Linked DNA regions of Homo sapiens. The protein of the gene in region 1 purifies or fractionates together with the protein of each later gene. This does not show direct contact. Each region holds a gene or a part of one and is shown in the gene's direction. Other genes may lie near its edges. The genes, in order: RD3, RAP1B, NDUFAF7, NAAA, CSNK1G3 and GNB4.

Region 1 (3,500 bases):
TGTAGAAAATTGTGCCAGACACTCACCAAAGGTCACTCTTTCTGTTGTTTAACAGACCTCCCCCAGGCACCACGTCCTTCCCAGTCTCAGCCGAGGTTCAGGTTCTGGGGATACCCTGGGATAAGGCAGCCCCCTCTGGAGTCTGTCTAGCCTGCCCTCCTGCCTCTCTGTCTCTGTTCTTCCTCCCTCTGTCTCTCCCTCCCTCCTTTGCCCTTAAGAACTTAATCGGACCCACTGAAGAGCCTTCTGGGGGAGCAGCTGGCACTGGGGACAGAAATAGCACCAGCAGAAATCTTGTTTCTGCCAAAGCCTCCAGTCCTGGCCAGAGTTGCGGGAAGTGAGGGGATGGGGAGGAGATGACTCAGAACACCCTCCTCCCCTGTTGAGACCCTACACCTGGGCCAAAGAGGCTTAGAGCCCACAAAATTCAGGACTCAGGTGGGATCACTCCACTCAGCCCCTGCCATCTGGAGATGGGGGAGGTGGGTCACAAAGCACCTTCTCTAGCGGCCAGCTCAGGTCGGGAGCCTTAAGCCCAGGGAAGCAGGACCCCATACAGGCTGCACCCCAGACTGTACTCGGGCTTGCTTCTGGCCTTACTCTGCCTTGAGGTGAAGTGTCTGGGGGTCCAGGAGACATGCCACCCTGTGGGCACTTCCCTTCGAGGTCAGGCTTAGGGACTGAAATCAGAATTCCCTGCCAGACAGTCGCCCGCCCACTTCCCCACAGAAGGGGCCACTGAGCAGGGCAGACAGCACTGCCAGCGAGCAACCCTAAGTCAGAGGGTGGCACAGAGGTGGCTGGTTGCAGGGGTGTGGCTGGGCCTTGGAGGTGAAAGCTGGGGTGTCCCCACACGTGTTTGCAAGGCCCCTTACCATGTGGGATGAAGCGGAGGTGGGAAGAGAGGGAGGCAGGCTGAGGGCCGAGAGCAGTCCCAACCCACCTCCATGTGTCAGAGAAGAACTCTGAGGAGTCCAAGAATGCTGTCTGAATCTCACCCTCCATGTTGTTAGGAAGGTATAGTTCACAAGGGAGGAAACGGAACATACTTTATTTAATAGTTTGTTAGCTTATGTGGCTGTGGCATGGATATTCTGCAGTCAATTTGCCCTGGAGGCAAAAGTTTTCTTCAGTGTCTTCCATTTCTTCTCTCACATTTCTCCCGGCCACAGGAGAACCCTCTGCTGCCAAGCCACTCTCTTGCTCTCTTCTTTCAGCTCAAATTCAAACCCAGATTAAGAAGAAAAAAAAGCTCCCTAAGGAGCTTTGGAAAATGCCTTCTTGTTCAGGATCAGGTCAGGTCAGGTCTGTGGGGCTTGTTCCTTGATCCAACTGTTATAGCTTCTCCATCATTTATTCGTTCCTTTGTTCGGGCATTCATTCATTCATTTGTTTGCTATTTATTAAGTGCCTACTGACTACATGTCCAGCCCCAGGGATGGAAAGGTGAATAAGGCACAGGCCCTGACCACATACCACACCCGGGGTCAGGGGAGGTAGGCAGTCACGTTCCGTAAAGTGCTCCTGAGCTCTGAAAAGCACCTGTGCAGAGTGCAGTCAGGGGACAAGGTAGAGAGTGGCCACATCTACCTCGGAGATGGGAAGGTCAAGAAAAGCTTCCGAGGGTGCTGACCCTAGACCTGGTCTCCATGTAGAATGGGCGGGCATTTCAGGCAGAGGGAGGAACATGACAAAGGCATGGAGCTGTGCAGTAGCCCAGCACATTCAGTAGCCCTTGCAGGAACAGTGACTCCGCATGCTCGCAGTGCTCTTCAGTGGCTACACCATTCACTCTTTTGGTGCTAAGCATCAATCTAACCCATAGACTTTTAAAAATACAAACACTCCAGGGAAAGTGACACATTCAGTTACAGTTACAGTCCTTGTGCCTGAACTGATGGAATCCTTTAGCCTTAGGCGAGGCTCCTGATGCTCATGGCTCTCTGGCCATGACACCCCCACCCCTGCACTCCCACCCCCCAGTACACACAGTACTACCCAACCTCTTTATTCTGGGCACATAAAGCAGGTAAGGGCTAAGAAGTAAACGTCCTAGCTGCTACTGACCCCAGGAGTAGGGTCTAATGGTTCGTCCTTTCGTCCCACTCTCCCAGGAAGCGGTCAGCTGTGTAATCTGAAGCCTCCATTGGTGATAGGCTTAGGTTGCGTGGAGAATGAAAGTTCTCAGATTTCTTTTTTTTTTTTTTTGAGTTGGAGTCTCGCTCTGTCACCCAGGCTGGAATGCAGTGGCACCATCTCAGCTCACTCCGCCTCCCCAGTTCAAGCAATTCTCCTGCCTCAGCCTCCTGAGTAGCTGGGACTACAGGCATGTGCCACCATGCCCAGCTAATTTTTGTATTCTTAGTAGAGATGGGGTTTCACCATGTTGGCCAGGATGGTCTCAAACTCCTGGCTTCAAGTGAGCTGCCCTCCTCGGCCTCCCAAAGTGCTGGAATCACAGGCATGAGCCATCATGCCTGGCCTGTTTTCAGATTTCTTAATTCTGTTGGTTGCTAAAGGAGTTGGTCATTCAAGTCTCCATCGGTAAGTAGAGATTTAGCTGTGGCCTTCCAGAAGGCTGCTGCTACCCCATCATAATATTCTCCTTTGTGTCTGATTATTTACCTTAACAATTCATTTCTCTGCATTAAGCACTGGGGTGCAGGGTGATGGGAGGGTGGCCTAAAAATGCATGTGTCCTCTGGAGGTGACACCTCCTTCATCACCATGCTGTTGAGACTGAGTTCATCTGACCTCTTTTCTCTGCGTATGGAGGGTCTAAGCAGAAATGGGATCATTGGTGCATGGAAGGGGGAACGGCTTGGAGGGAGAAAGGTGCAGAAAGATGAAGTGAGACCCCTCGAAGACCCACTTCAGGCTTTAGCTCGGGAATGTCATTTCCCTTCACTGTTGTCAGAAGCACAGACCACATCTGACAGGTCATGGAGTAGCTCATTCACCCATTCATTCATTCGTTCATTCATCTACTCGGTCTGTCCTTCACTAAATTTGTATTTAGCAGGCCTGTGTGGGGGCTCCATGATGAGTTAGGCTCGCTGCTGTCAGACCTCCACCTGTCTCACCTTGTTCTATGGCTGGATCCTCCCTCCACCTGGGACCCCTTCTCCATCAGCCCATGTGTCTGAAGCCCGCACTCACCTCTCAGCCCACTCTGGCACTTTTCACCATCTAGGGTCACACCTTCCCCTCCCACATCAGTGCTGACTCTATGCTTCACCAGCAGAGTTCCCTCTCTCCATTGATGTTGCAGCGTTTACTCAACAAATCTTGCCTCTCCTGGAGAGCAGGATCCTGGCATCATCCTTTCGTGTTTATGTCCCTCCACAGATGTGTACACAGTGCTTGATTAATGCTGAATGAATGAATGGTGGGTAAGTTGGTTTTTTTCAGGTTAATGTTAATCCATACAGTTTTTTTTTTAAACGGAGTTTTGCTCTTTTTGCCCAGGCTGGAGTGCAATGGTGTGATCTTGGCTCACC
Region 2 (3,500 bases), on another chromosome or scaffold:
TTCAGAATTCCAATATTTTCTCTTAGCTGTATAAAGGTAAAGTGACCCCCTCCCATAATAAAGAGCTACCATGTAAGGAGGGTATAGCAAAGAATTAATTATTAAAATAACTAGATCCATTTTTGTAAGGATCCTTTCAATTGTATCTTCCTATCTAATTCAAGATTGGTGGAAGGTCTATGCAAAGATTGATAACATGGTAACTGATTAGACATGTTATTTTAAATGCAGTCCAAGATTTGGATGAAAAGCTCACGTTCAGGTTTTTTTTGCCTTTTGTTGTAGGTACTCGATAAATATTTATTGAGGTAGTGAAACTAATCTGAAATTGGATCTGATACAGAGAATTTGACCGATTTTACAAGGTGTCCATTTACTTTTTCCCCATAAGTATTGTTTAAATAGGCTGTTTTATTATCGACTATCACACAGATCTTACTGATTTGCCTCATTTCCTTAAAGATGTAAAATAACTGTGTTTCTCTGTATGTTTGTGTTGCTAAAGAGGAGGTTGGGTATTGATCTGCAGTTTCTAGATTTGACTGGCACTAGGAGTAATTTAGCATTTATGAATTAGCTATTTACTGCTGTTTTATAGCAGTGATGTCACGTGTTCACTCTATAGAAAAGTTAGGTAAAGATTGGTCTGTCTTAAACTTTCTGAGACATAGGTTGTGACTAAAAATATGCCCTGGGTTTTCTTCCCCCTCCTGTCATTATTGAGGACTCCATGGTCTAAGAGATTAGGCTGAAGTTTTTGTTAGCCTTTTCAAATTGAATTGAATTTTAGAACAAGTTAAGACATTTTGGCTGATGCAGTGATTCATTGTAACATTGGACAAAATTTTTAGTTCAGCCATCTGTAAACAGGAGTACTGTACCATGGCTCTGGAAGCTAGTGTTTTTCTGTGTTCATAGATTATTTTGCAATGGTATTGAAAGGTACTAATTGCCATTTGAGGTCTTAAGTTCTTTGTAAATCTCATAAGCACAGTGGAAGCAGTAGCTACAAAGAATAGATGAATTTATCCATTTGCAGTAAAAACTGATTTGTATGTAATCTGTTGTACTTTGAACCCAGTTGAGCACTGGATTCTAAAACAAGTCTCTTTGGTCGTGGAGAGTTTCTATTTTAAACAAGAAAAGTTATCAGGAACTTTTGTGCTGCCTTAAAAACATCACTTTTTAAAATTCACCAGCAACAAAAAATAGTATCACTTACATTCCGTATTTCATAACATTGGACTATTTATTCCTAATGTTGGTCAAATCAAGGGTACAGTAGCAACTGATTATTTAAGCAGTAATTTAGAAAGATTTTTTTTCCTTTGAATCAGTAGAGGGTCAAAATTTTTAAAACTTTCCAAAGAACCTTAAAACAGGAAAAAATGAAAATGTGGGGGAAATGTACCAGTTTTTTTTAATTTAAATTCCCTAAAATAAAAATATTTACAACATGAGTTACAGAATTTCCATCTGATTTTTATTGTACAGGAGGAGTATATTCTGTGATATCAGTATACAATTCAAAATACAAAAAATTACCTGGGCGTAGTGGGAGGTGCCTGTAATCCGAGCTGCTTGGGAGACTGAGGCAGGAGAATCGCTTGAACCTGGGAGGCGGAGGTTGCAGTGAGCCAAGATCGCTCCACTGCACTCCAACCTGGGCGACAGAGTGAGACTGTCAAAAAAAAAAAAATTACTTAGATTGTGTATGAGGTGCCTGCATACTAGAAATGTTCTTTTGAGTTACAAATCTGTCTCTCTGACCATAGAGAGTAATTATTTAATCTTGTGAGTTTGAGTTTTATATCAAACCATTTCCTAAAGCTTACTTGTAATTACTTTTACTTTATGTTTTTGTAGTTATACATGTGTATATATATACACATACATACACACACACATATACATATATCAGTGAGACCTTTTAAATTTTAGCTGAATTCTGGTTTCATAACTTGTGATTTTTTTTCCGGTACTGGGGGATTGAATGTTTTTAACTGTTGTGCAGATAGACTGAATAAAGGAAGTGAGCATCCATTAAAAACTCTAGTAAATAATTTGGATTTTTTTTTTTTTTGAGATGGAGTCCCACTCTGTCGCCCAGGCTGGAGTGCAGTGGCACGGTCTCCGCTCACTGCAAGCTCCGCCTCCAGGGTTCACGCCATTCACCTGCCTCAGCCTCCCGAGTAGCTGAGACTACAGGCGCCCGCCACCACACCTGGCTAATTTTTTGTGTTTTAGTAGAGACGGGGTTTCACTGTGTTAGCCAGGATGGTCTGGATCTCCTGACCTCGAGATCCACCTGCCTCGGCCTCCCAAAGTGCTGGGATTACAGGCGTGAGCCACTGTGCCCGGCCTTTGTTTTTTTGTTGTTGTTGTTTTGTTTTTTGTTTTTTTTGAGACAGAGTCTCGCTCTGTCAGTCAGGCTGGAGTGCAGTGGCACGATCTCAGTTCACCACAGCCTCCGCCTCCAGGGGTCAAGCAGTCCTCCAGTCTAAGCCTCCCGAGTAGCTGGGAATACTGTGCCTGGCTAATTTTTTTTTTTTTTTTTTTTTTTTTTGAGACGGAGTCTCTCTCTGTCCCCCAGGCTGGAGTGCAGTGGTGCAATCTCAGCTCACTGCAACCTCCGCCTCCAGGTTCAAGCAGATCTCCTGCCTTAGCTAGTACTACAGGCGCACACCACCGCACCCAGCTAAGTTTTGTATTTTTAGTAGAGAGGGGATTTCACCATATTGGTCAGGCTGGTCTCGAATTCCTGACCTCAGGTGATCCACCTGGCTTGGCCTCCCAAAGTGCTGGGATTACAGGCATGAGCCACCGCGCCCGGCCAGGTTTTGTATTTTTTGTAGAGACGTTTCGCCATGTTGCCCAAGCTCACCTCAAACTCGTGGGCTCAAGGGATCTGCCCATCTTGGCCTCCCAAGTGCTGGGATTATAGGCATGAGCCACTGTGCCTGGCCCAGCATTTCACTAAGTAACTTTATTTTAAAAATATACAGTGAACTGATTGCCGAAGTGGTGGATTGCCTCTACCTGTTTCCTTTTTCTTTGCCTTGTAGGAAGGGAAAAAGATGAAAGGAAACATGTTTTGTCTATTTAGTAGCAATTTTTGGTGAAAGCTTCTGGAAAGGAAATGGAAAATGCTGGGTAAAATGAAATTATAATTATCTGTGTATTCTAAAATTTATCCTCACATTAGAATATATTTTTCAAAGTTACTTTATACTAAATTCAGGGACTTTCTAAGTTCTCAGTTAATAGAACTGAAAGGGTATCAATAAAATAAGGACTATATATATAATCTATTTTTACTTAGTTTTTATGCGCCAAAAGGTATGTATGTTGCATCCAGCTGTTTGTTACCTTGTGTTTTAAAGTTGCAGTTAGAATGTGGAATCCTATTACTACATTGTGCCAACATATTTGTGGCTGATGCTTCTAAGTTATCCACAAGCTTCTCAATACAATAGCAAAATGCAGGAATTCCTCTGGAA
Region 3 (4,026 bases), on another chromosome or scaffold:
TATCTTTTAAAGTTTGCACCACGTGTTTCATGTGTATATATTACCTATTCAAAACTTAAATATACACAAGCACAGAGCAAACTGTGAATCTGCCTATCTCTAACTAACTCCTCCACCTTGAAAGTCCAGTCTCCAAACAAAATAATATTAAAAACAAAGTTAATTTCTGTTCCTTATCTGCTTAAAATCTTCCAGTGGTTTTGCATCAAACTCAGAGCAAAAGCCTGCCCTCTGACCCCTCGGCCCTCCTTTCTTACTATTCTCCCCTTAACTCACTCTGCCTCTGCTACACTGGCATTTTGGCTGCTCATGGAATAGGTTAGGCACTCTTCTGCCTGTCTTTGCATTTGCTGTTCCAACTGACTGGAATGGCAGCTCACTCCTTCCTGTCCTTTAGGATTCTGCTCAAACATTTCCGTGATGTGTTTGTCGATCATCTCATTTAATACTAACGCGCTCCCACTCCTTATCGTCCTTCCTTGTTTTATTTTCTTTTATAGCACTACCCCGCGTCTGCTGTACTATGTGTTTAAAAGTTTGTTTACTGTTTCTCTCCCTTAATTAGGATGCTCCAAAAAAGAGGGCTTCTGGGGCATACAGTGACACGTGCATGTACTCTATGAGAACAGAAATGAAAATTCCAATACCACTGGTGTTCAAAACACTCATACCACAAGGTCAGGACCAAGAAAAGCCACTCTCCGACCTGATGGTGTGATGGTTATACCACGTCAATAAAATCAGAAGATCGCCTACATCCTAAGAATAGCCAGAGAATACAACGTTCAATTCGAAACTTTTCTTTTGTAAACAGCAGTGGAAACCGGCGTGGGAAGCGCACCGAACACATGCTTCAGAGGCTGGGATCTCGGTCCTGGACGCCCGCGCTCTACGCAGCGCGGAAGCGGCGGGGCAGTCAGCCTAGCCACCTTCGGAACTCTCCACGCCTGATCCCGTTCCCCGGAGCCCGCGGCCGTTACCTTGGTGCCTCCGAGCCGTAACACTTCCTCCAGGGAGAACCCATTCTCGGCTTCACTAGTATTATCCTCATCCTCCTCGTCCGGATCTTCTACTGCCTCCTCGGGGCGCCAAGGCCGCTTGGCATGGAACTCCAAAGGCTCCTTGACTGCGGCCATGGCGGGCAAAGCATACGCGCGTGAAACTCAGCCTATTTCCGCTCTGCCAGTGGCGTAATTCCTGTCGGGGCGTGTCTTCTCCCGGAAATGGTCTAAGCCCCAGCTCCTGGCGGAGCGAGCTAGCCTGCGAATTTCAGCATGAGTGTACTGCTGAGGTCAGGTTTGGGGCCGTTGTGTGCCGTGGCGCGCGCAGGTAAGCGTCAGTCCCCTCGAAGCCCGGTTGCCGTGGAAGCCGCGTGGGGCGCCTTCCTCAGCTCTTCAGTTGAGGGTACCGGGGGATCAAGGGCTCGGGGGCTCACTTCCACCTTGAAGGTACCCTGGGCTGGAAACGGGTCCGGTACAAACGCAATAGGGCTGCGTAGTCGTGGGCAAGTGGGTGCTGTCTCTGCGCCCCGTGGGCGTGCTAAGCACAGTAGCCCGCGGTCTGCGGTGGGGCGAGGTTAAGGGTTCACGAAGCTGTTTTGAAAACGCTCAGGCGGCTTGCGCTCGTGAATGGTCAGATTTATCATGGGGTCTGTTTAATTTGTGTTTTTCGCAGCCATTCCTTTTATTTGGAGAGGGAAATACTTCAGCTCCGGGAATGAGCCTGCAGAAAACCCGGTGACGCCGATGCTGCGGCATCTTATGTACAAAATAAAGTCTACTGGTCCCATCACTGTGGCCGAGTACATGAAGGAGGTGTTGACTAATCCAGCCAAGGTATGGGTCGGGTAGCCCGAGGACTAGGCCCTCTCTAGCCGATTTGCGAGGTGCAAGCCAGGAGGGAGAAGCCCGAAGGTTCTCAGCCCAGGCAGTGGGGGTGCCTGCCAGGGGAAGAGCCATTTCTGAGGACCTGGGGACAGATAATTTGTCAGTTGGTCAGGGCTGGCTCACGTCAGAGGCAGTGCCAGTAAAGAGGAGAGGACACGGTCCAAGGGTGTTTAGGAGACAGAATGTAGCTGATTGGATTTATGATGCGGGAAGGATGACTTTCCTACTTGGCTGATGGTGGGTGGTGTGGATTCATTGCTTTGGGAGAAGGAATACGGGAGGAAGGATGGAGAGTTCAGGCTGGTATATGAATTTGAAGTGTGTGGGACTCTTAGGTAGAAATCTCCAACAGGCAGCTGGAAATAGGAATTACTGCCTGGAAAGTCGTCTGTGTTGGAATGGCTTCAGCTGGCATTGGAGACATGTGCTGGGTTTTCTCACATGTGCAGTTGAGAATGCAGTCTGGGTCGTCTTCACTGTTCTAGGATTAGGCACAGTCACAGCTTTCTGACCCACGTTTCCTTGTCTGTTCTACAGAGCCATTTGGTGAAAGCCTATAGTCCTTTATTTTAGAATATTTCATCTTTTGCTGGGTTGAAATATGACCTCTGTGGAATTCTGGGGTTAGATTGGCCATTGTTGTTGGATATGGTAGTGTGACTCTAGTGTCGAGGTTTACCCAAGGCCGGTATCTTTCTTTCGATGCCGGTTAGGCAGGGCTGCAAGATAGGTGGCTTAGACTAGTGTGGTGGTACTAGAAATAGAAGAGGGTGATTTAGAAAGGGACTGACAGGATTTGCCGATGGATTGAGTGATGGAACGGAGGAATCAAGGCTGATTCGTACTTTTAGCTTGAGCAGTTGGGTGATGATGGTACCTTTTATTGAGATTAAGACAGACAGGACCAGGTTTGGAGGAGTACTAGGGAGAGGGCCTACACCAGGAGCTGCATTTTATACATATTTTGTTAGCAGTGACATGCAGGTGGAGATAGAAAGTAGGCAATTCGCTGTAAGAGTCTGGCGTTCAGGGCCGGACGTGGCGGCTCACGCCTGTAATCCCAGCACTTTGGGAGGCCAAGGCGGGTGGATCACGAGGTCAGGAGTTTGAGACCAGCCTGACCAACTTGGTGAAACCCCGTCTCTATTAAAAATACAAAAATTAGCCGGGCGTGGTGGCTTGTGCCTGTAATCCCAGCTAGTCAGGAGGCAGGAGAATCGCTTGAACCCGGGACGCAGAGGTTGCAGTGAGCCTAGATTTCGCCATTGCACTCCAGCCTGGGCAACAGAGCGAGACTCTGTCTCAAAAAAAAAAAAAAAAAAAGTGAGCCTGGTGTTCAGAAGAAAGACTGGGCAGGCATATATACATTTGCTCGTCATCAGCATATAGGTCATATTTAAAGCCAAGGAACCAGGGAGAACATACTGAGAGAAAGGAAGGTTTCCCAGCATTGAGAGTAGGGGTAACTCTAAAATGTAGAGGCTCTTAACCTAGGGACCCTTTAATAGAAATCAGGGGTTTCATGAAGCTGGATGGAAAAAATATTATACCTTTATTTTCACTAACTTTCAACTGAAATTTAGCATTTCTTCAATTATGAACATACGCAGCAACTAGTAGCATCAGCAATACCTGTGACTTTGTCATCTGTGGAAATCATTGGTATTTCCTTATCACAATACAGTGATCACAGGCATCTCAGGATTTCATCGTGCTCATCCTTACTTCAAAATTTTGTTAATTATTGGGTCTTTGGCTTGATTATGGGCTTTTTTGTTTGTTGGCTTTTTGAGATAGAGTCTCATTCTGTCACCCAGGCTGGAGTGCAGTAGTGCAATCTTGGCTCACTGCAACCTCCACCTTCAAGGTTCAAAGGATTCTTGTGCCTCAGCCTCCCGAGTAGTTGGGATTACAGGTGTATGTTTCCATGCCCAGCTAGGTTTTTTGTATTTTCAATGGAGATCGGGTTTTGCCTTGTTGGCCAGGCTGGTCTTGAACTCCTGGCCTCATATGATCCGCCTGTCTCAGCCTCCTAAAGTGTTGGGATTACAGGTGTGAGCCACTGTGCGCGGCCTAATTATATTTTTTTAATACACTAGTAAAGAAGTGTATATATCACATTTTTTAGAACATTTGATAC
Region 4 (3,955 bases), on another chromosome or scaffold:
GCTAATTTTTGTATTTTTAGTAGAGACAGGGTTTCACCATGTTGGCCAGGCTGGTCTCAAACTTCTGACCTCAGGTGATCCACCCGCCTCAGCCCCCCAAACTGCTGGGATTACAAGCCTAAGCCACCATGCCCGGCCCTTTCATTTAGTTTCTACTATTCATGTACACATGTACCCTGTTTTACCCACAGACAACTGTGCTAACCGTTAAGAATGTCCCAGCCTTACTAAGATTTTCCTAAGTTTGTCTCCCAGACATTGGGAACTCAAAGGTGAAGAAACTTAGGTGTGAAGGTGGATTGTGGATTCAGACCTCCTTACTTGGAGGCCAGTGCAGAGACACACCAGCAGAGTAACCTCGGGTACATGGCTTCACCTCTCCAAGCCTCACACTCCTCATCAGTAAAGCGAGGATTAGTGGAACCTACCTGTTGGCTTGTTTTGATGATTAAATGAGATAATGTCCGCGAAAAATATTTAGCAGATAAATGTTCACTAAATTTTGAGCTTTAAAAAAATGTTTTACCAGCCAGGCGCGGTGGCTCACGCCTGTAATCCCAGCACTTTGGGAGGCTGAGGCCGGTGGATCACCTTAGGTCAGGAATTCGAGACTAGTCTGGCCAACATGGTGAAACCCTGTCCCTACCAAAAATACAAAAATTAGCCAGGTATGGTGGTGGACGCCTGTAATCCCAGCTACTTGAGAGGCTGAGGCAGGAGAATCGCTTGAACCCAGGAGGCGGAGTTGGCAGTGAGCGGATATCTCGCCGCCGCACTCCAGCCTGGGCAATAGAGTGAGACTACATCTCAAACAAACAAACAAACAAGCAAACAAAGTTTAACTGAAAAGTCTTTCCTGACACCTTTTCGCTACTGAAAATCTTACAGCCCCTCCCGGCCGCAGCCTACACTCCTTCGGCCCAAGCAGGTGCGCTGGAACCGGCAGTTGGTGAGAAGCCGGCTGCCGGCAGCCCCAACCCTTAGCGGCCCCGCGGTCAGGGACCTCCAGGCCCGATGGAGAGTCGGGGCGGGCTAGTGGATGCGCGGCGGGGACGGGAGGTGTCGCCGCTCCGGCTTGCCGGTGACAGGGGCGGGCGGGTCGTGCGCGGGCCCCACCTCCAGCGATCGCAGCCCAGCCCCAGCTCCTCCTCCTCCACGGCTTACCCGGGCTCCGACAGCGGCTGCAGGTCTCCAAGTTGCGGCCGCTGGAGCCCGAGCCATGCGGACCGCGGACCGGGAGGCGCGCCCGGGGCTTCCGTCCCTGCTGCTGCTGCTGCTGGCCGGGGCCGGGCTGTCAGCCGCCTCGCCCCCAGCAGCGCCGCGCTTCAACGTGAGCCTGGACTCGGTCCCCGAGCTGCGCTGGCTGCCCGTGCTGCGGCACTACGACTTGGACTTGGTGCGCGCCGCGATGGCGCAAGTCATCGGGTGAGCTGGGGCCCTGGACGGGGTCTGCGGGGACACCGGCCCTGCGGGTCGGAGTCAAACGCGCGCTGCTCAGAGTGCTTTAAACGGGGACGCTTTACTCCCCGCCACCCTTGGAGAACTGGTTTTGGCTGCCGCCCTGAGCAGCGTCCGGGTTGGGGAGAATCCAGCGCGGCAGGTTCGGCTTTCAAGTTCGGTGTCACCCGTGGCACGCCAGTCCTTGAGCCATTCCGGGTCAGCGTGGCGCGCGAGTTGTCGCCCGGGCTGCATAGCTACCAAGGAGGGGCAACCCGCGCCTTCCTTGCGGGCCTCGCGGGCCTTCCAAGCTTGCCCCTTTGGGACCAGCCTCACTCGCCCTCCCCATTCGGAGTTTTCTTACCCGCCGCCTTCCCCCCGCCCCCTTCCCCCCACTCCCGGGAGGCTGCAGATTGAGTGACGCCGCGCCTGGGCGGTCCACTGACTGGGGAGCAGTGGCCCTGAGACCTCACGCCCTAAGGATGTAGCCCCGCTCGCAGTGCACACGCAGTCGCACGCCGCCGACCTCTGAGCGGGTCAGACGCCCTTGTGCTTTTTGTTTCTAGGGACAGAGTCCCCAAGTGGGTGCACGTGTTAATCGGAAAAGTGGTCCTGGAGCTGGAGCGCTTCCTGCCCCAGCCCTTCACCGGCGAGATCCGCGGCATGTGTGACTTCATGAACCTCAGCCTGGCGGACTGCCTTCTGGTCAACCTGGCCTACGAGTCCTCCGTGTGAGTGCCCCAAGCCCGCGCGGAGTAACGCGGGGCTTGCGGGGGCCCCCGACACAGACTAGCGGGAGGAGACATATTTTCCGTGTGATAAAAACAGGGCGGTGCCTGCTTGCCTAGAAACCTCCAGCGCTTCCTCTTTGCCTCTCTGGGTAAATCTGAGCTGCACATCGTAGGCTTCGAGAGGGAAAGCAGATTCTCCGATTCAACACTAAACTTTCCCTCTACGTGTAGCCCCGGGTTTTCTCTTCCCCAATCCAGGTAGCGTACTTTTAAAATTCTGCTCAAAGGCCGGGCGCGTTGGCTCACACCTGTAATCCCAGCACTTTGGGAGGCCAAGGTGGGCAGATCACGAGGTTAGGAGTTCGAGATCAGCCTGGCCAACATAGTGAAACCCCGTCTCTACGAAAAACACAAAAAATTAGCCAGGCGTGGTGGTGGGCGCCTGTAATCCCAGCTACTTAGGAGGTTGAGGCAGGAGAATCACTTGAACCCGGGAGGCGGAGGTTGCAGCGAGCCGCGATCGCGCCACTGCACACCAGCCCTGGCGACAGTGCGAGACTCTGTCTCAAAAAAAAAAAAAAAAAAATTCTGCTCAAAACGTACTTTTCCAGGAAGTTTTTGAAACTAAGCCTCCTCTCATCTGGACCCTTTAGTTAACTCAGTGGCCTTCCAGCTCTATACTGGCAGTGGCTCATCTCTGCCCTTATTTGTCGCCCTGCATTTATCCTTTCATGTGTGTCGTGGCTGAAGTGTCTGTGTCCACCAGGGCTGGGGCGACAGGGAACACTGCTCTAATAGGGCCAGCCAGTGTTTGGACCGGGAAGTGGGCATGATAAAATGTGCATCCAGGCTGGGCGCGGTGGCTCACGCCTGTAATCCCAGCACTTTGGGAGGCCGAGGCGGGTGAATCACCTGAGGTCAGGAGTTCAAGACCAGCCTGGCCAACATGGTGAAACCCCGTCTCTACTAATAATACAAAAAAATTACCAGGGCCTGGTGGCGGGCACCTGTGAATCCCAGCTACTTGGGAGGCCGAGGCAGGAGAATCACTTGAACCCAGGAGGCAGAGGTTGCAGTGAGCCAAGATGGCACCATTGCACTCTGCAGCCTGGGCGACAAAGCGAGATTCCATATCAAAGAAAAAAAGTGCACCCAGAAGTGAAAGCAACATGGAGTGTGTGGTTGATCCCAGGCAAAGTGCAGGGGACCACTAAAGGTTTATGGGCTCAGTAATAGGCCCTGGAATAAAGAGAGGTTTTGACTTGGTTTCTTCCTTCAATACTTATTGTTTTGCCAGCAGACTAGCTTCATCTCGTAACCTCTTGTACATACTTAGAGCTTCTTGCTGCCTAAAGATGATGGGGGTAGAAAAGATCTTGGAATAATGAAACTTTACTGGCCCAGGCATTTTCCCAGAACACCTAGGCAGAGTAAGCTAAAAAGCACTGGGACTGCCTTCCTCTTCAGGAAATGCTTTCAGGCACAGAAAAGACACAGGCCTGCTAAATAACATGCTTTTCAGTTGAACTAAGTTATTATAATTTTACCACCTCCCTCTCCTACCTCCAACTTTTTCCTATTTTTAACTTACAGCTTTCTCAATGAAAAATCACGAATCATTTTTACCCTCATCTGTTGGAGTCACCATATTCAAACACATTAAAGCAAAAGTTCTAGTAAAAACATTCTAACTTTTGGATTTGATACTAAGGTATTTATTGAATTGCCTAATAGCACCATTCAATTCACTAGCATTAACAAAGGAAATGCTTTCTTCTCATGTTGGA
Region 5 (2,186 bases), on another chromosome or scaffold:
TTAATTTTTTTCTTTTTTTTTTTTGGTGGGAGCAGATCAGTGATTTTTTCAGTTCATACCAGACCACAGCATTTTCCCACAGCAGCCTTGATGTGTTCATCTCCTCTTTTAGAGACAGGGTCTTGCCCTGTCACACAGACTGGGGTTCAGTGGCACAATCATAGATCAAACATTCCTCCTGCCTCAGCCTCTCAAGGAGATGGGGTAACAGGCGGGTGCCACCATGTCCAGTGCATGTGTGTGTGTGTGTGTGTGTGCGTATGTATGTATAATATAATATATGTGTGTACATTTATATATGTATGTGTGTATATATATATTTAGAGATATTTGTGTATGTGTATATGTAGTTAGAGAGAGAGAGATATTTAGAGATGGGGTCTTGCTGTATTGTCCAGGCTGGTCTTGAATTCTTAAACTCCTGAGCTCAAGCAATCCTCCTGCCTCGGCCTCTCAAAGTGCTGGGATTACAGGCATGAGCCACTGTGCCCAGCCAAGATTTTTTTTCACCTAGAAATAAAAGTCAGTATTATATTTTTTTGCATATACAGTTTTGACTTGTAAAATGGAATCACCTCAATTGTGCTACTTTAAATATTAAGCATAGTTTTTACCTTAACTAAACTTTCAATAAGCTTGACCTTCTTTAACCCTTAAAGAATTCAAAATTGCCAGTCTTGGTATTCTATATAATGTATTTTCTGTCTTTCACTTTTTTAATATGATGGAAAATGTTGACTAGTGTATATTGGAGTGTCTTTTTATTTTTGGAGTCTAAACTGATTATTGGTGAGAATAAACTCCCCAATGTTAGGATCATTATTGCCTTCCTAATGGCTTCAACAGTCACATATAAATATCAGGGAGAAAGGGTGAGAATGCATAGAATGAAATTCTTAATTACTCTTAGTGAAAAACCTTTTGAATTTAATGGCTCCTTTTTATGTTGCATAGAATGTCTTGCTATTCTTAAAAGGCATGTGAATGAAACATAATAGTAATAGCTCTGCCATATTTTCACTAATACGTATGCTTCATTGGTGTAATCACTGTTTATCTTGCACTAGCCTGTTGCTTTTTATGATCATTTAAGTTAAAGTGATACAGTCAACTTTGTGATATTTTAGTGCTTTTAAAATAAAAAGAGTGTTTCCCTCATCTGCAGGTGCTGCTGTTTTTTCAAACGAAGGAAAAGGAAAACCATACAGCGCCACAAATGACTCTGGACACAGACAGATCCTGGGGAGTTACTTACATGTTCATCTGCTGTCTTGTGATTAAAATCATCTCTGTAGTGACCACGTATATTTTCAAGGACTCACTCTTAGAAACAAAAATGTCATACTTTCATACTTCATTTTGTGGTTGTCTTACATTCTTTTTCTTTTTTTTTTTTTCTCTAATTTAACCTTTATGGAAGCTTTAAAGTTTTGTCAAAACATGAGTGCTTTGCCCATCAGTGAATGGAATGGACCAATGAGGTGGTATCAATGAATATAGTTCCATAGAACATTTTCCAGAAGTTCTTCTGTTGTAGAAAGCAGTACAGTATCTTAAGTGTCAACCAGTTATATACCTAATCTGGTTTTTTATAACTTCTGTAAGAGCATAATCAAACAGGAATTTTCTTTTCTCAGTGGATAATACAACAGAGAAAACAGAGTTGCCCAAATATTTAAAAGAAGTTATTCCTTGAGAAGTTCATATTTTGTGACATCTGCATTGATTTCAGTATTACTGATGGTACTGTTATTCATAAGTCATATTAACATTCTCTCCGTGAAATCATGGTACAGTCACTGCCCAGAGGTACTGAGGAAAAAGCAATATGGGTTCGGCAGATGGTGGTGGTAAAATGAATCTTAAGGAGTGTGGTAAATATGTGCTCCGCTTTTGTTGCATCACTATGTGAAGTACTGTGTTGCAGAAGTGGCAAAAGCGCTTATTTTTAAAAATGCAAAATATTTGTACAATGTAACTTTATGCTTCCAAATAATAATGTATGTTAGACAGCAAGAAATGAATACTTTAAAAAGTGATGTATGTTGGAGTTATAAAGAAATACACTAAGGAGAGGTAGTAAATGTGAACCTTGTTGCAGTGTATAAGGTGGAAGCCTAAAGAAATCTCACCGAAACTTACTGCTGAATGATTACATTCTCCCTTAAGCAGAAAACTTTGGATGT
Region 6 (3,500 bases), on another chromosome or scaffold:
TATATATATATATATGTATATATATTTTCAAGGCCAAGCATGGTGGCTCATGTCTGTAATCCCAGTACTTTGGGAGGCCGAGGTGGGAGGATCACTTGAGGTCAAGAGTTTGAGGCCAGCCTGGCCAACATGGTGAAACCCTGTCTCTACTAGAAAAAAAAAAAAAACATGAAAGTTAGCTGGTCATGGTGGTGCCTGCCTGTAATCCCAGCTACTTGGTAGGCTGAGGCAGGATAATCGCTTGAACCTGGGAGGCAGATATTGCAATGAGCCGAGATCCCTACTGCATTCCAGCCCAGGAGACAAAGTGAGACTCTGTCTCGAAAAAAAAAAAATTATATATATTTATGTATGTATATATATATGTATGTATAGATTCATATAGTTTATGCTTCTTTTTAAATAGTTTCTGATTCTTTTTGGTATACCCTGATTAAGTGTTTTTTTCCTTATGAAAACTCTTAGGTTGGGAATGAGATAGTAAGAGGGGTCAAGAAGACTAATATTTTTAAAAAATCTTGGGAAGGCTTCATGTTTAATTAATATTGATCATTATTATTAAGGAAGTATTTTATGTGCTCTACAAATATAAAATTGGCTTTCTTACAGTTAAAATTGTAAATGTTTACTGTGATCATTTGCCTCTAGATTTTTATTTGTGGCTGGTTTTTTACTAAAGCATAGAGGTATATCTATTCTTTTTAGTTAATAGTCTGCAGAAGGCATTCTTATTATACATTTATGTATATTATTTATAACAGCACATAGGATTATTTTAAACTAATCATAATTTTCAGGAACATATTGATCCCATAACGGCTCTGTGGAATTATATACATTAAATTACCTTCAGTTACTATAAATGTACTTTATGTTTGCTTTTTTAACTCCTCACTGTTTCTAGTTCAAGTTATCTCATGAACTATGATTAAGGTAAAGAATAACATTTTTGTTGCTTTCAAAAGATTACATCAAATATGGACTCTGTGGGTCGAATACAAATGCGAACAAGACGTACACTGAGGGGCCACCTAGCTAAAATCTATGCTATGCATTGGGGATACGATTCCAGGTTTGTACCTGTCATTACCTGTCATTTTTAAACTGTTGCAGAATTATTTTCATTAAGAACCATCATTTGCATTTTCTTTGTTTAAAAACAGAATATATTCATGAAGCGTTTGCAGAAAATGCATCTCAGATGAACATGCTGCTTTCAATAAGAATATTAATTGACTCTTTAAAAGTATAAACATTTTTAATATGGAATCCAGGACAACTGTTCAGAAGAGGATTCCTTTTCTTTGCAGTGGAACATTGCAGACATTCTTTGTTTTTTAAATAGGCACAAAGCGTTTTTACTGTATATGAAGCTTGAAATTTCAGTTCATAAGCAAATACGTATTGAACACCTATGTGCAAGTTTTTGGATATTGCTATAGTTTGTTATTACATAAATTCGCAAATAATGGAAATTACATGAAACAAAGGTGTTTGTACTGAATACATCTTTTACTCCCTCGACTGCATCACAGAAAGGTGTGTGCTTGAATGTGCAAGCTGACCATCTGCAGGTGCACAGGCACACGCACAGCTGCTACGTGGCCTACAGTTAGATAGATTGCTCATCACTGTCATTCACTATGTGTATAAGGCTACAGCACAGCCTATGTTTTTCCATTGTCTGGCAATAGCAGATGTGTCTGCTATCACAGTGGTTTACTTGTTCCTTTGATTTGGTTAATCTTAATGGGAAATGCCTAAACCAAGAAACTTCTATGTTTTAATAGAAGTTGCACATTTATTCTCTTCTCCCAGGAGACACTAAAATTATAAAGTAGAAGAAGCCTCAATTGTTGCTCTAATTGGGATACTTGACCACAATAATATAGAACATGTGCCTCTTACGAAGGGATACATAAAATTATATAATTGGCAACTGACATAATGTCTTAATCTTTTTCTTTTTCTTTTCTTTTTTCTTTTTTTTTTTTTTTTTTGAGACAGAGTTTCACTCTTGTTGCCCAGGCTGGAGTACAATGGTGTGGTATCGGCTCACTGCAACCTCTGCCTCCCAGGTTCAAGGGATTTTCCTGCTTCAGCCTCCCAAGTAGCTGGGATTACAGACATCCACAACCACGCCTGACTAATTTTTGTATTTTTAGTAGAGAGGGGGTTTCACCATGTTAGCCAGCCTGGTCTTGAACTCCTGACCTCAGGTGATCCAACCGCCTCAGCCTCCCAAAGTGCTGGGATTAATCAGGTGTGAGCCACCGCGCCTGGCCGAATGTCTTATTCTTTTTCTTAAAGGAGTTGAAGATAAAAATAATTTACCTGTTGATAAAGCAAAATTTTAACTTAAAATATAGTAACTTGAAACAATGTTTATGGTTCTTGCTTTCCTTAAACGTTTTCTGAAGACTGTTAATCTTCATAGAAAAATGAAACCATCATCCAGGAACCTATCTCACATAGTCTTCCCACCCATCCGTGTTATCAATCCATTACTTAATGTTCTCCTCAACTCTTATGCTGATGATGCCAATTGATTTCTAAAGAATTTTCTTTAGATGCCATCCTATACCCCACTATCAGATAGATCTTCCCTTTTGTAAAACCTTGTAGTGATTGCTACCCAAGAATCTGATAATGTTATTTACCTCTAGGGAAAGGAACTGGGTGGCTGATGATAGGCCCAGGAAGGTGCTTTTTAAATTTTCTTCTGTATATCCTTTTTTATTTTTTGAATTTTACACCATGGTGAAAAGTAAAAATTCCAAACAAGGCTGGGCATGGTGGCTCATGCCTGTAATCCCAGAACTTTGGGAGGCCAAGCGAGTGGATCACTTGAGGTCAAGAGTTCAAGACCAGCCTGACCAACATGTTGAGATCCCATCTTACCAGTCGTGGTGGTGCACACCTGTTATGCCAGCTATTCGGGAGGCTGAGGCAGGAGAATCACTTGAACCTGAGAGGCGGAGGTTGCAGTGGGCTGAGATCGTGCCATTGCACTCTAACCTGGGTGTCACAGTGAGTGTCTGTCTCAAAAAAAAAAAAAAAATCCAAACAAAACAAAAAATTTAGTGGCTAAAATTACTTAGGAGTTCATACTCTTTAGTTTAACAAAGCTTTCTGCAGTTTAAGCCCAGTCTGCTTTTCTCAACTTATTTTTCCATTTTCTCACAAACTGTACTACTGGAAGACCCACAATTCCTGAAACAACACTCAGTGTATTTTTCTACCTGTCATTGATCTTACATAGCTTTCTCCTAAAATACAGCCTTTTCTGTATCTTTAGCTCTCAACATTTTCTTTCAAGACTCATTCTCTTGTGATTAACTCATCTAGCCATTGTTCCTCCTTTACTCTCCTGTGGCATTTATTTTATACCCCTCTTCTGACAGTTTTTACTTACTTGATTTAATATAAATATGAGTAAATGTCTTATCTTCACCAGATGGTAGAGGCCTCAAGAGCAGGCGATGTATCCTGCGTTGTAC

Evidence for each region.
Region 2: the proteins of RD3 (region 1) and RAP1B purify together in Homo sapiens (affinity purification with mass spectrometry, with the first as the bait; one large-scale study listed by BioGRID). This does not show direct contact.
Region 3: the proteins of RD3 (region 1) and NDUFAF7 purify together in Homo sapiens (affinity purification with mass spectrometry; 3 studies listed by BioGRID and IntAct, with this or other methods). This does not show direct contact.
Region 4: the proteins of RD3 (region 1) and NAAA purify together in Homo sapiens (affinity purification with mass spectrometry; one large-scale study listed by BioGRID and IntAct). This does not show direct contact.
Region 5: the proteins of RD3 (region 1) and CSNK1G3 purify together in Homo sapiens (affinity purification with mass spectrometry, with the first as the bait; one large-scale study listed by BioGRID). This does not show direct contact.
Region 6: the proteins of RD3 (region 1) and GNB4 purify together in Homo sapiens (affinity purification with mass spectrometry, with the first as the bait; one large-scale study listed by BioGRID). This does not show direct contact.

What each region holds. Positions count from the first base shown.
Region 1 is NC_000001.11:211,482,163-211,485,662, reverse strand, and holds part of RD3 (protein RD3), read left to right. Parts: intron 1-3,500.
Region 2 is NC_000012.12:68,613,899-68,617,398, forward strand, and holds part of RAP1B (ras-related protein Rap-1b isoform 1 precursor), read left to right. Parts: intron 1-3,500. UniProt on the Homo sapiens protein: GTP-binding protein that possesses intrinsic GTPase activity. Contributes to the polarizing activity of KRIT1 and CDH5 in the establishment and maintenance of correct endothelial cell polarity and vascular lumen.
Region 3 is NC_000002.12:37,230,432-37,234,457, forward strand, and holds the start of NDUFAF7 (protein arginine methyltransferase NDUFAF7, mitochondrial), read left to right. Parts: upstream 1-1,226; 5' UTR 1,227-1,274; coding exon 1,275-1,329; intron 1,330-1,401; exon of another isoform or gene 1,402-1,448; intron 1,449-1,674; coding exon 1,675-1,835; intron 1,836-4,026. Other genes in the region: CEBPZ (CCAAT/enhancer-binding protein zeta), read right to left, coding at 981-1,136. UniProt on the Homo sapiens protein: Arginine methyltransferase involved in the assembly or stability of mitochondrial NADH:ubiquinone oxidoreductase complex (complex I).
Region 4 is NC_000004.12:75,938,214-75,942,168, reverse strand, and holds the start of NAAA (N-acylethanolamine-hydrolyzing acid amidase isoform 1 precursor), read left to right. Parts: upstream 1-1,155; 5' UTR 1,156-1,219; coding exon 1,220-1,425; intron 1,426-2,003; coding exon 2,004-2,168; intron 2,169-3,955.
Region 5 is NC_000005.10:123,613,177-123,615,362, forward strand, and holds part of CSNK1G3 (casein kinase I isoform gamma-3), read left to right. Parts: intron 1-1,165; coding exon 1,166-1,220; 3' UTR 1,221-2,186. UniProt on the Homo sapiens protein: Serine/threonine-protein kinase. Casein kinases are operationally defined by their preferential utilization of acidic proteins such as caseins as substrates. It can phosphorylate a large number of proteins. Participates in Wnt signaling.
Region 6 is NC_000003.12:179,416,971-179,420,470, reverse strand, and holds part of GNB4 (guanine nucleotide-binding protein subunit beta-4), read left to right. Parts: intron 1-965; coding exon 966-1,072; intron 1,073-3,500. UniProt on the Homo sapiens protein: Guanine nucleotide-binding proteins (G proteins) are involved as a modulator or transducer in various transmembrane signaling systems.